Linked DNA regions of Homo sapiens. The protein of the gene in region 2 interacts with the protein of the main gene of each other region in a pairwise test. Each region holds a gene or a part of one and is shown on either strand. Other genes may lie near its edges. The genes, in order: FGD1, SH3RF1 and MAP4K3.

Region 1 (3,653 bases), on a different chromosome or scaffold from region 2:
GAGGAAGGTAGTACAGATTGCTGAGAAGTTGGGATTTTCTTTTTCATTTTTCTTCTTTTTTTTTTTTTTCTTGAGACAGCGTCTTGCTCTTTTGTCCAGGCTGGAGTGCAGTGGGGTGATCTCAGCTCCCTGCAACCTCCACCTCCCAGGCTCAAGTGATCCTCCCACCTCAGCCTCCCAAGTATCTGGGAATACAGGTGCACACCACACTGCCCAGCTAACTTTTATATTTTTTGTAGAGACAGGGTCTCACTTTGTTGCCCAAACTCATCTCAAATTCCTGAGCTCAAGCAATCCTCCCTTCTCAGCTTCCCAAAATGCTGGGATTACAGGCATGAGCCACTGTGCCCAGCCAGAAGTTGGGATTTCAAGAAGCAAAACTTGCTCATGAAACACAATTTCATCATTTTTAAGCACACTTAGCTGCACAAAATTGTAAACAAGAAAGTCTAGATATTCTCAGGGCCTTAACAAAAGCGTTGAAGAATGGTTTATACTCAGCATACCTATGTGGCTGTAGAAACAAGGGCTGCAAACGCATGTATAAACTTTAGGGTGCTCACAGCCACCCCCAGCCTGGTTAAACTCCCTAGTGATACTGCCTGCTGACATACATGGAATCAATGCACTAGTCACAAAGAATTCTTATCTATTGATGAAAACAGCCAGCCCCAGCCCTGGGTCTGGCTCTCCATCTGAGGGCTAGGATAGGGGCTTCCCAGAAAAACACTGTGGCCAGGAAAGGGGCTCAGAGAAACCCAATACCCCAGATAGCTGCTAAGACATGCCAGTCCTAACTTTAACCCCAGTCCCCTTTGGGTTAAAGTCAGTTACTTCACACCCATTTTCTCCCTTCCTGCAGGGCTGCACCAGGGAAACCGGATCCTGGTTAAAAGTTTGTCCCTTGACCCTGGCCAAAGCCTAGAGCCTCATCCAGAAGGTCCCCAGCGGCTTCGCTCAGACCCAGGTCCCCCGACTGAAACCCCTAGCCAGCGTCCTTCACCACTGAAGCGGGCACCGGGCCCGAAGCCACAGGGTAAGTGGTCCTGGAAAAGAGCAGAGAAGTGGCCCAGGGGAGGGTACAGAGGAGGGGAGAAGTTAGCCAGTGGCAGAGAAGAGGGTTTGTTAGAAGGATAGGGAGCCACCATGCTCCCAGGGCAGTGCTACCTACCTAGTGCACAGAGTGCTGTGGCCTGAGGCTAATGTGTGCATACTGTGATCTCACCTTAGCCCCTTTGTGTCTACCTCAGGCAAAGGTGCAGATTGGTGTTTGTGGAAGGGGTTGTGGCCTGGCCATGACAGCCAGCCACCTCCAAATCCAGCTTTTTTTTTTTTTTTTTTTGAGACAGAATCTCACTCTGTCACCAGGCTGGAGTGCAGTGACATGATCTTGGCTCACTGCAACCTCCGCCTCCTGAGTTCAAGCAATTATCCTGCCTCAGCCTCCCAAGTAGCTGGGACTACAGGCACGTGCCACCATGCCCAGCTAATTTTTGTATTTTTAGTAGAGATGGGGTTTCACCATGTTAGCCAGGCTCAAATCCAGCTCACTGATGTCTCCCTTCTCTCTTCCCCATTCGTCTCTCCAGTGCCCCCAAAGCCCAGCTACCTGCAGATGCCCCGGATGCCCCCCCCACTGGAGCCCATCCCCCCTCCACCATCACGCCCACTGCCTGCCGACCCCCGAGTGGCCAAGGGCCTGGCTCCCAGGGCAGAGGCCAGCCCCAGTTCTGCAGCAGTATCCTCACTGATTGAGAAGTTTGAAAGGTGAGTCTGGTCCCTAGGGCACCCTCTAGGGGAAAGGGGGAGCCTGGGACAGGAAGGGATAGTCAGGAGAGGCCTCTCAGTCAAGCTCATACCCTGCTTCCATGTGTGTCCACCACCCACCTCAGAGAGCCTGTGATTGTCGCCTCGGATAGACCAGTCCCTGGCCCCAGCCCAGGTCCCCCAGAGCCAGTCATGTTGCCACAGCCAACCTCGCAGCCACCAGTGCCCCAGCTCCCCGAGGGTGAGGCCTCCCGCTGCCTGTTTCTGCTGGCTCCTGGGCCCCGGGACGGTGAGAAGGTGCCCAACCGGGACAGCGGCATTGATAGCATCAGCTCGCCATCCAACAGCGAGGAGACCTGCTTCGTCAGTGATGACGGGCCCCCCAGCCACAGCCTCTGCCCTGGGCCCCCTGCCCTGGCTAGTGTGCCTGTTGCCTTGGCCGACCCCCACCGGCCTGGCTCCCAAGAGGTTGACAGTGACCTGGAGGAGGAGGACGACGAGGAGGAGGAGGAAGAGAAGGACAGAGAAATCCCAGTGCCCCTGATGGAGAGACAGGAGTCTGTGGAGGTACTGACCTGTGTTCACCGAGAGGCAGGTCCATGTGGAGAACCTGGAAGCGCCTTTTGTGCTTGATTCTTCCCCTAGCTCAGTATTTCTCGAAATAGGACCTTGTTTCCAAGCTCTGTGACACTGGGCAAGTCTTTTCCCTTTCTGCTTCCCTACCATAAGCCTCAGTTTCCTTATTTGTAATACGGAAAGTCTCTTACTTACATCCATAGAGACTTCTCAACAGCTGGAGGAGGGGCGCAAGAGCTAGAGCCCTGCAGGGGCCCGAGGCTGTGCAGATGAAGGCTCTTGGCAGCAGAGACCCCTTTCTGTGCCCGGGCAGCCTAACATTTCTTCAGAAGGCACCATCGCACTTGAGTTAGATCTCAGCCGGAATACTTGCTCTGCTAGGACCAAGCTCAAGTGTAGGGGCCAAAGCCAGGGACTGCCGGCATGGCAGGTAGTCAACACATATATCTAAGGAATAGGAAACTAGGCCAACAGGCAATGAGTTTTATACGTTCTTATACTTTTGTGCTTTTCTCACACCCCAGGTACTCAGCAAGCCCTTGCTGATAGTGTACTGAGTGGGTGAATAAATGATTAATTAACATTTATATACCATTTAATCTGTAGTCTGATGTGTTTTATTTATATTAAATTATCTAATTGTCTCCATTACCAATGGACTTCAGTCCTATTATTATTTTGTTTTGGTTTTGTTTTTGTTTCTCACCAGCCTCTACATTAAATAGATTCTATTATTATCTGTATTTATGGATGAGGCGTCCTAAATACAGAGCTGTTAAAGAACTTACACAAGCTAGTGAATGGCAGAGCTTAGGATTTGAACCCAGGAAGTCTGACTTACCATCCCACATGCTTAACCACTACACTCTGCTGAGTGAATAGAGAGAGCGGGTGAATGAGTTGTTGAGTGAGGGAGTGCACGTCATCAGAATGGAGGGGTAGGCTTTATGGTAGACTGGGGACTCAGGGATGAAGCTGAAGGACTTACAGATCTAGAGATGGGGGTCAAGGTTATCCTAGGGTGGTATTAGGCTTAGAGTGGCATGGGAACTGTTTTAAGAATTCTGGGGGCTTGGGTGAGGGTTACGATAGAGGATGATGGATCAGGGGTTACTGTTTCTCCTTTCCAGTTGACTGTGCAGCAAAAGGTGTTTCACATTGCCAATGAGCTCCTGCAAACTGAGAAGGCCTACGTTTCCAGGCTCCATCTCCTGGATCAGGTGAGTGGCCCCTTGGGGGTACGAGGGCCCCAGGACCTTGTAGGTGCGTTTCAAGGAGGCAGTGATAGGGCCTGAGTTCAATCCCACCAT
Region 2 (3,653 bases):
ACTGAGTTCATGTCTGTATTTTATGTAGCTCTACAGCCAAACACTACATCCACTTTATAATCTTTTCGGTATCTTTTCAGTAACTTTGGTTCTCATCATCCCAAATAGAAATGAAATTAAATATACAGCTAAGGATCCCTAGAGAGGTTGGTACTCCACTCACTTATTCACTCATTTATTCAACAAACCTCTTGTGAGTGTGTACTCTGTGCCAGACACTACAAAGGGCTCTGAAAAGTCAAAGATGGACCAAACTCAGCCCCCTCACCAGCCCCATTCCCACAACCACTCTGCATGGAGCTTAGGTCCCTATGGCTCCGCATCTTTGAGCTGAAGAAATGAAGCCCAGAGAAACCCCACAGCCAGCCCATGGCAGTGTTGGAACCAGAGGCCACAACTTCTGACCTCCAAACCACACTCTTCCCCATACATCAAGCTAAGGAGAGTCTGCTTTCCTGGTCCACTGTCATTGTAAAGGAGCTTTATTTGTCCTCTTTTTGTCAAAACAAAATAGGAAGCAAGGACAGTGAGGAAAGAATAACCTCTGCCAGCTGCAACTGAGAAAAGATTCCCCTGCTAAAAGCAACATGAGGTCCCAGGGAAAATGTTTGTCACTTAAGTCAACTGCAGGTAAGGGAAGGAAGCATTTGGGATCAGAAATTGGACAAGTTATTTAAAGTCTTTCAGCCACCCCTCCTACATCCATGAAATAAGAATAATAATGTATAGTGAGCCGTAAACACTCCAACTGCACTCCAACCTGGGCAGAAGTGAGACCATCTCAAAAAAAAAAAAAAGAATGCATAATAGCTTCTTATAGATCAATGTGAGTAGATACGGAAGCTATCCAAGTTTTATCATTAAATTAAAAACCACAAGTTGCAGAACTGCATATACAATGTGATTCCATTTCTATTCAATTTTTTGTCTGAAAGAAAACACAAAAAAACCTTGTGACAGTGGTTACCCCTAGAGATTAGGAACAAAGGAGTAGAGATATTGGAAGCCTTGATTTTCTCCTTTACATCATCTTCTACTATTACATTTCTTACCATAAGCATGTATTATTTTTAATTCTTAAAACAAAGAAAAATACTATGAGTATTTTTCTTACACTGAGTATTTTTTAAACAGAAAGAAAAATGCTATGAGAAAAATACTATGAAGAAAAATTCTATGAGTAAAAATACTATGAGAAAAATACTATGAAAAATTAAATGAATGGTACACATAATTAGTACACTTTTCTATGTGTATATTATACATCAATAAAGAGTTTTTTCAAAAACTGGAGTAGGTCTATGTGCTTAAACATGAAGAGATTTCATAGATATAGTAAATGAATTAGCAAATCATTGAATCTCCAGAGCATGAAATTCTAGTTCTGCAAAAAATCAAGAAACTATATGCATACACATATAAATGTATATGAAAAGATCTGCAAGTATATACACACTTAATAACATATTCTTCTATATGGTTGAATTTTTTTTTACAACCAGAATGCTTTTACATACATTTTGAAATCTACATTCTTTCTCATTTTAAAAATGATAACACTTAGGCTGGGTGCCGCAGCTCACGCCTGTAATCCCAGCACTTTGGGAGGCTAAGGTGGGTGGATCACTTGAGGTCAGGAGTTGGAGACCAGCCTGGCCAACATGGTGAAAACCCACCTCTACTAAAAGTACAAAAATTAGCCAGGCATGGCGGTAGGCGCCTGTAATCCCAGCTACTTGGGAGGCTGAGGTGGGAGAATCGCTTGAACCCAGGAGGCTGAGGTTGCAGTGAGCTGAGATCTCACCATCGCCCTCCAGCCTGGGTGACAGAGTGAGACTCTGTCTCAAAAAAATAAATAAATAAAATGATAACACTTGACCCCAGAAAGCTGTTGTGAGGTTTACATGATTATGGTTACATGACACTTTATGTGATATAAAAAAGAATCATTACTTTTTTAAAAAAATTATCAATTAGTATGCACCACAGACCCCCTTTCCCATACCTTCCTTCTACCCTGTTCAAGATCTCATCTCCGAGTCTCACCATCAAGCCTAGCTCAGGAATGAAGTAAAGGTCAGGGATGGGGCAGACATGAAGCCTGGAGTAAGGATCAAGGATGGATAAAATAAGAGGTCAAGCATGCAACAAACATGGTTTAGCCAAAACAAACAAACAAACAAAACCCACCTTTTCCGTTTTAATTCAATCATTCTGAAACACACAGAAACATTTCCCTCATCCAAACCACCACATTAAATGTCTTGCTTGGGTCCGGTATGAGTTAATACACATCCCCATCCCCATCTGTGCGAAGACAACAACTCCTTTGTCCGTCAGTGTTTGTAGTGAACCTTACACGCCAGGGGAGCATGTCCCAACCACTCTGGTCCACACTTGGTATTCTTTGACCATGCACTTAATCCAAGGACCACGAACTACAAAAAAGAACCCCATCATAGATAGAGACTTATTCTATATCTTATCCCACCCCCTGATGCTTCACTATCTGCTGCCTTACTTGTTGTTTCTTGTGTGTTACCTCCCCCAAATGTAAACTTTTTCAACAGAAACATGCATTAATGTCATCTTTGACCTAGTATAGATTATTGAACATAACTGGACCTGAAAGCTCTCTACAGGTGCTTGTTCATAGATGGATGTCAAAGATGTCCCACGGCACAGTTCACAGCTGGCAGTTGCTTTCCACACCAAACCTGGAGCAACTCAGTTGTCCTAACTTTCTCCCACTACTTCCTTCAATTCTTTCTGCCAATGCCATTCCTTGGAATAAAGCCTAGAATGCCTTACTAGGGTGCTACTTAGCCCTGGAAAGCACCAAGTAAGGATCTGTATCTGGTTTGTCCATCATTACCTATCCCTTGAGTAATGCCTTAGGTACTACTGAGTCCTGGAAAGCACTCTCTCCAGACTCCAGCTACAGATCAATCCAATTTGTCAGAGATAAGAAAGTAGTAGTTTTCCCCTCTCAATATTTCCTTCATTTCCTCCAGAACTTTCTGTGCATCTGGTATACTGTCACATAAACTTCAACTTCCTTATAACATGCCTGTCTATTTTAAGAAATTATGCCAGGCAATGTGGGTAGTTGAGGGAGTAGGGAGGGGCTGAACAACTTCTCAAAGGTATTCCATGACAGAACACAGAAGGCTGGACCACTGCCAGTTTCTGGGGAAACCAGGACTGAAGGGATTGGCAGTGGACCGAGAGGCCACTCAAGGGGCTGACCTTTAGGAGTATGTCTACAGTCAGAGTACAAGTTGGCTAGGGCTACTACATCCAAGGGCACAGACTGGGTGGCTTAAACAACAAAAATGTATTTCCTCACAGTTCTGGAGGCTGGAAGTCCAAGATCAAGGTGTCAGTGGGGTTGGCTTCCTTTGAAGGCAACTCTCCTTGGTTGGTAAGTGGCATCTTCTCCATGTGTCTTCACATGGTCTTCCCTATGTGTCTGCATCCTCATCTCCTCTTCTTATAAGAACACTGGTCTTACTGGATTAGGGCCCATGCATGTGACCTCATTTTACCTTAACCCCCTCTTTAAAGGTCCTATCCCCAAATATGGCCACATTGTGAGGTACTAGGAGTTAGAACTTCAACGTAGCAATGTTGGGGGACATAATTCAGCCCCT
Region 3 (3,653 bases), on a different chromosome or scaffold from region 2:
TGTAAGTATTACTACTCTCTTATACCACTGTAGGATGACTATAGTTAACAATAACGGGCCGGGCGTGGTGGCTCACGCCTGTAATTCCAGCACTTTGGGAGGCCGAGGTGGGCAGATCACGAGGTCAGGAAATCAAGACCATCCTACCATCGTGGTTAACATGGTGAAACACCATCTCTACTAAAAATACAAAAAAATTAGCCAGGTGTGGTGGCGGGTGCCTGTAGTCCCAGCAGGAGAATGGCATGAACCTGGGAGGTAGAGCCTGCATGCAGAGAGCTGAGATCACACCACTGCACTCCAGCCTGGGTGACAGGGCAAGACTCTGTCTCAAAAAACAAAACAAAACAAAAAACCAATAATGTGTTATTTAGTTGCAAATAGTTAGAAGGAGGATATTGAATGTTCCAACACAAAGAAATGATAAATGTTTGAGATGATGGATATGCTAATTACCCTGATCAGATCACTACATTATATGTATCAAAACGTTACTATGTACCACAGAAATTTGTATTATAATTATTTCAGTTAAAAGAATTAAATTCAATTTAAAAAGAAGTAATTGGGTAATACACTTTCTTGGTTCCAAGTACTATATTGTAATTAAAACTGGGAAAGATAATTATAATTCCAGTTTATATCAACTGAAAGGTAAATAATTAAGAACATAAGCCACATCTGGCTTATGAAATAAATGATACAGTATAAAATATATCACATTGTAAACTTCATTTTTGCTACTGTTAGATATGAAACATCTTTGATGAAGCTCATCAAAAACTATATATATGCTTTATGAAATTATATGCAGAATGTGACTGAAGTTAGGATTCATTATAACTCAGGATCAGTTTTAGAAACAGAAAGAGGCTGGTCACAGTGGCTCATGCCTGTAATCCCAGCACTCTAGGAGGCTGAGGTGAGCAGATTGCTTGAGCTCAGGAGTTCGAGCCCAGCCTGGACAACATGGTGGAAACCCATCTCTACCAAAAAATAGAAAATTAGGAAGTGTGGAGGTGCAGTCCCAGCTACTCAGGAGGCTGAGGTGGGAGGACTGCTTGAGCCAGGAGGTCGAGGCTGCAGTGAGCCAAGATCACACCACTGCACTTCAGGTGGGCCACAGAGCAAGCAAGACCCTTTCTCAAAAGAAAGAAAGAAAAAATTGTAATATGATGAAGCACAAATGTCTCAGATGAGGATTTCAAGGCCTAGAAAGTTTATGTAACTTTACCCAAGATCAACCTATGCCCTCAACTGCTACTCAAGTGCTCTTATCATTTTACCATGAAACTGCATCTTTATTAAAAAAAAAAAAGTAAACATCAATGCATACATAATAGTAAAAATATTCCTCCTTTAAAACTATATATTTACATCCAAAGTATTTGTTCACTTGAAATATAACAGATTAAAATTTAATCAAATTTATAATAAGCTTCTTTGTAGTTGTAGTAAAATTACAGCAGCTATCAATCACTGATAAATCTACAATAAAAAATTATTGTCCTTTGGAAAAAATGGACTGAAATGTGTCACTATAAAATTCACATGTTGAAGTATTAACCCACAATGTGATTATATTTAGAGATGGGTTTTTAGGAAGTAATTAAGCTTAAATGAGGTTGTAACAGTGGGATCCTAATCCTATGGATTGGTGATCTTACGAGAGAGAGAGATCACTCTTACCCCTGATCCCACCATGTGCATACACTGAGGAAAGGCCACGTGAAGACATGGCCAGAAGACGGCTGTCTGCAAGCCAAGAAGGCAGCCCTCACCAAGTTGGTTGGTACCTTGATCTTGAACTTCCCACCTCCAGAACTGTGAGAAATAAATTTCTGTTGTCTAAGTCTATGGTATTTTGTTATGTCAGCCCAAGTTAATGTAACTAGAATAGAAAAAAGGAAGGAAACTGAGATACAACCCATGATATTGTGTTACTGATATTGAAATTTCCATCAATATTAAGCTGCCAGATTGATGAAATCAGGTCAAATGACACCTTTTCTTTTTACCAAAAACAGAGACAGAACTTACTGTTTAGATTCATCATCATCTCCTTCATCATCTTCTAAATGTGCGACGTGTCCTCTAAATAAAAAGGATAATGTCATTGTTATTAAATGGATTTTACCAAAACAGTAAGAAGAAATTTTAGAAAATGCAGGAAAAGCTACTGTAAGATAAAATTTTATTTCTGCATCTTTATAGGATAGGATAGATTCAGAATTAAAACAAGGAACTGGGAGCGGTGGATCGTGATGTCCGTTACTAGGGAGGATGAGGTGGAAAGATCGCTTGAGCCCAGGAGTTCAAGGCTGCAGTGAGCTATGATCATACCACTGCAATCCAGCCTGGGCAACAGAGCGAGACCCTATCTCTATTAAAGAAAAAAAAGACAACGCAAACAAATAGGCTACATAACAGAGAAGAAGGCAAACTGACTTTACTTGTCTGTGACATAAAGTACTTTAAGATTAAAAATTAAAATTACCGCTGATGCAATTCTTCTTCAACAGACTTGAGAAGACTCCTTAAAAGAAAAAACAAAAACAAAAAATAATGTGAATAAATTATCAAAGGAATATCGAATGTGTTTTTATCATTTTAACCTTAACCATACATTTTTTGAATGATTACTTTTTTACCATTTACTGAAAATTTGCTAGTGATCACCTCTGCAACCATAAAACATCAAGTTATATTTAATAAAATACCTCTATTTTCCTGTTGCCAATGTCTTTATATATGTATTTTAAATGAACAAAATAAATCCTAATATTTATTGAAAAATACCAATTCAAACAGAAGACAACTCACCATGGAATGTCACAACAGTACTGACAAAACAATAATTGCAGGGTCATAGCCAGGAGTCTCCAGGATTCAAATTTTACCTGGAATTTTATACCTGACACCTGAAATTATATATACTTTCTTTTTCTTAAAATAAGGAAGGTGACACACTTCAAAATAACATCATGCTCTCAGGCAATCCTACAAAATGAAACTCACCATGTTGGATCTCTCTGCAGAAGCATGCATGCATGTGATGTGAATACATGAATGTAGTAGCACTTTGCTTTCACGGAAGACACTCACTTACCTGAAGGATTTGTTCTCCAGTGGTGCACGGGCAAACACATTTACACTTTTGGGAGACTAAGCCTGTATCAGACCAGGTCGAGGATTTTACCATTAGGAGCAGTATACAAAACTTTAATTTTCAGGAATGTAAGAGAGAACTATGGCATTCCTGAAGTTCCCTTACTTCTTTTTACCGCAAGTTCATGCAGCATACCTCCTAAATTACACTCTTCGAGCATAAAGACTCGATAGACTTCTCAAAGCTAATAGGGGAGATAAATATAGTTACTAATATACTACTGGGATAAAAGAGAGTCAGCAAAAGTTTTACTCTCCCTAAAAGTTATCAGGTAGCACCTTTTAATTATTTTCCCTCCTAATACATATCAGGAAAAACTGCCCTTAAAATTACAAAACATAAAACTAGAGAAACTGAAAGGTATGGTTATCTACTGTAAGCAATTAACAGAATAGGTTTTAGGCATCAATATTTTAATTAGCCTAGATTAACAACAATTTAAATTTTAAAAAATGAAAAACTTATGACTCCAGAGTGGTAAATT

What was found.
Region 1: the proteins of SH3RF1 (region 2) and FGD1 interact in a two-hybrid assay, tested with the Homo sapiens proteins (one large-scale study listed by BioGRID).
Region 3: the proteins of SH3RF1 (region 2) and MAP4K3 interact in a two-hybrid assay, tested with the Homo sapiens proteins (one large-scale study listed by BioGRID and IntAct).

What each region holds. Positions count from the first base shown.
Region 1 is NC_000023.11:54,468,697-54,472,349, reverse strand, and holds part of FGD1 (FYVE, RhoGEF and PH domain-containing protein 1), read left to right. Parts: intron 1-862; coding exon 863-1,036; intron 1,037-1,589; coding exon 1,590-1,767; intron 1,768-1,892; coding exon 1,893-2,334; intron 2,335-3,473; coding exon 3,474-3,563; intron 3,564-3,653. UniProt on the Homo sapiens protein: Activates CDC42, a member of the Ras-like family of Rho- and Rac proteins, by exchanging bound GDP for free GTP. Plays a role in regulating the actin cytoskeleton and cell shape.
Region 2 is NC_000004.12:169,260,822-169,264,474, forward strand, and holds part of SH3RF1 (E3 ubiquitin-protein ligase SH3RF1), read right to left. Parts: intron 1-3,653. UniProt on the Homo sapiens protein: Has E3 ubiquitin-protein ligase activity. In the absence of an external substrate, it can catalyze self-ubiquitination. Stimulates ubiquitination of potassium channel KCNJ1, enhancing it's dynamin-dependent and clathrin-independent endocytosis.
Region 3 is NC_000002.12:39,290,733-39,294,385, forward strand, and holds part of MAP4K3 (mitogen-activated protein kinase kinase kinase kinase 3), read right to left. Parts: intron 2,537-3,653; coding exon 2,498-2,536; intron 2,095-2,497; coding exon 2,041-2,094; intron 1-2,040. UniProt on the Homo sapiens protein: Serine/threonine kinase that plays a role in the response to environmental stress. Appears to act upstream of the JUN N-terminal pathway.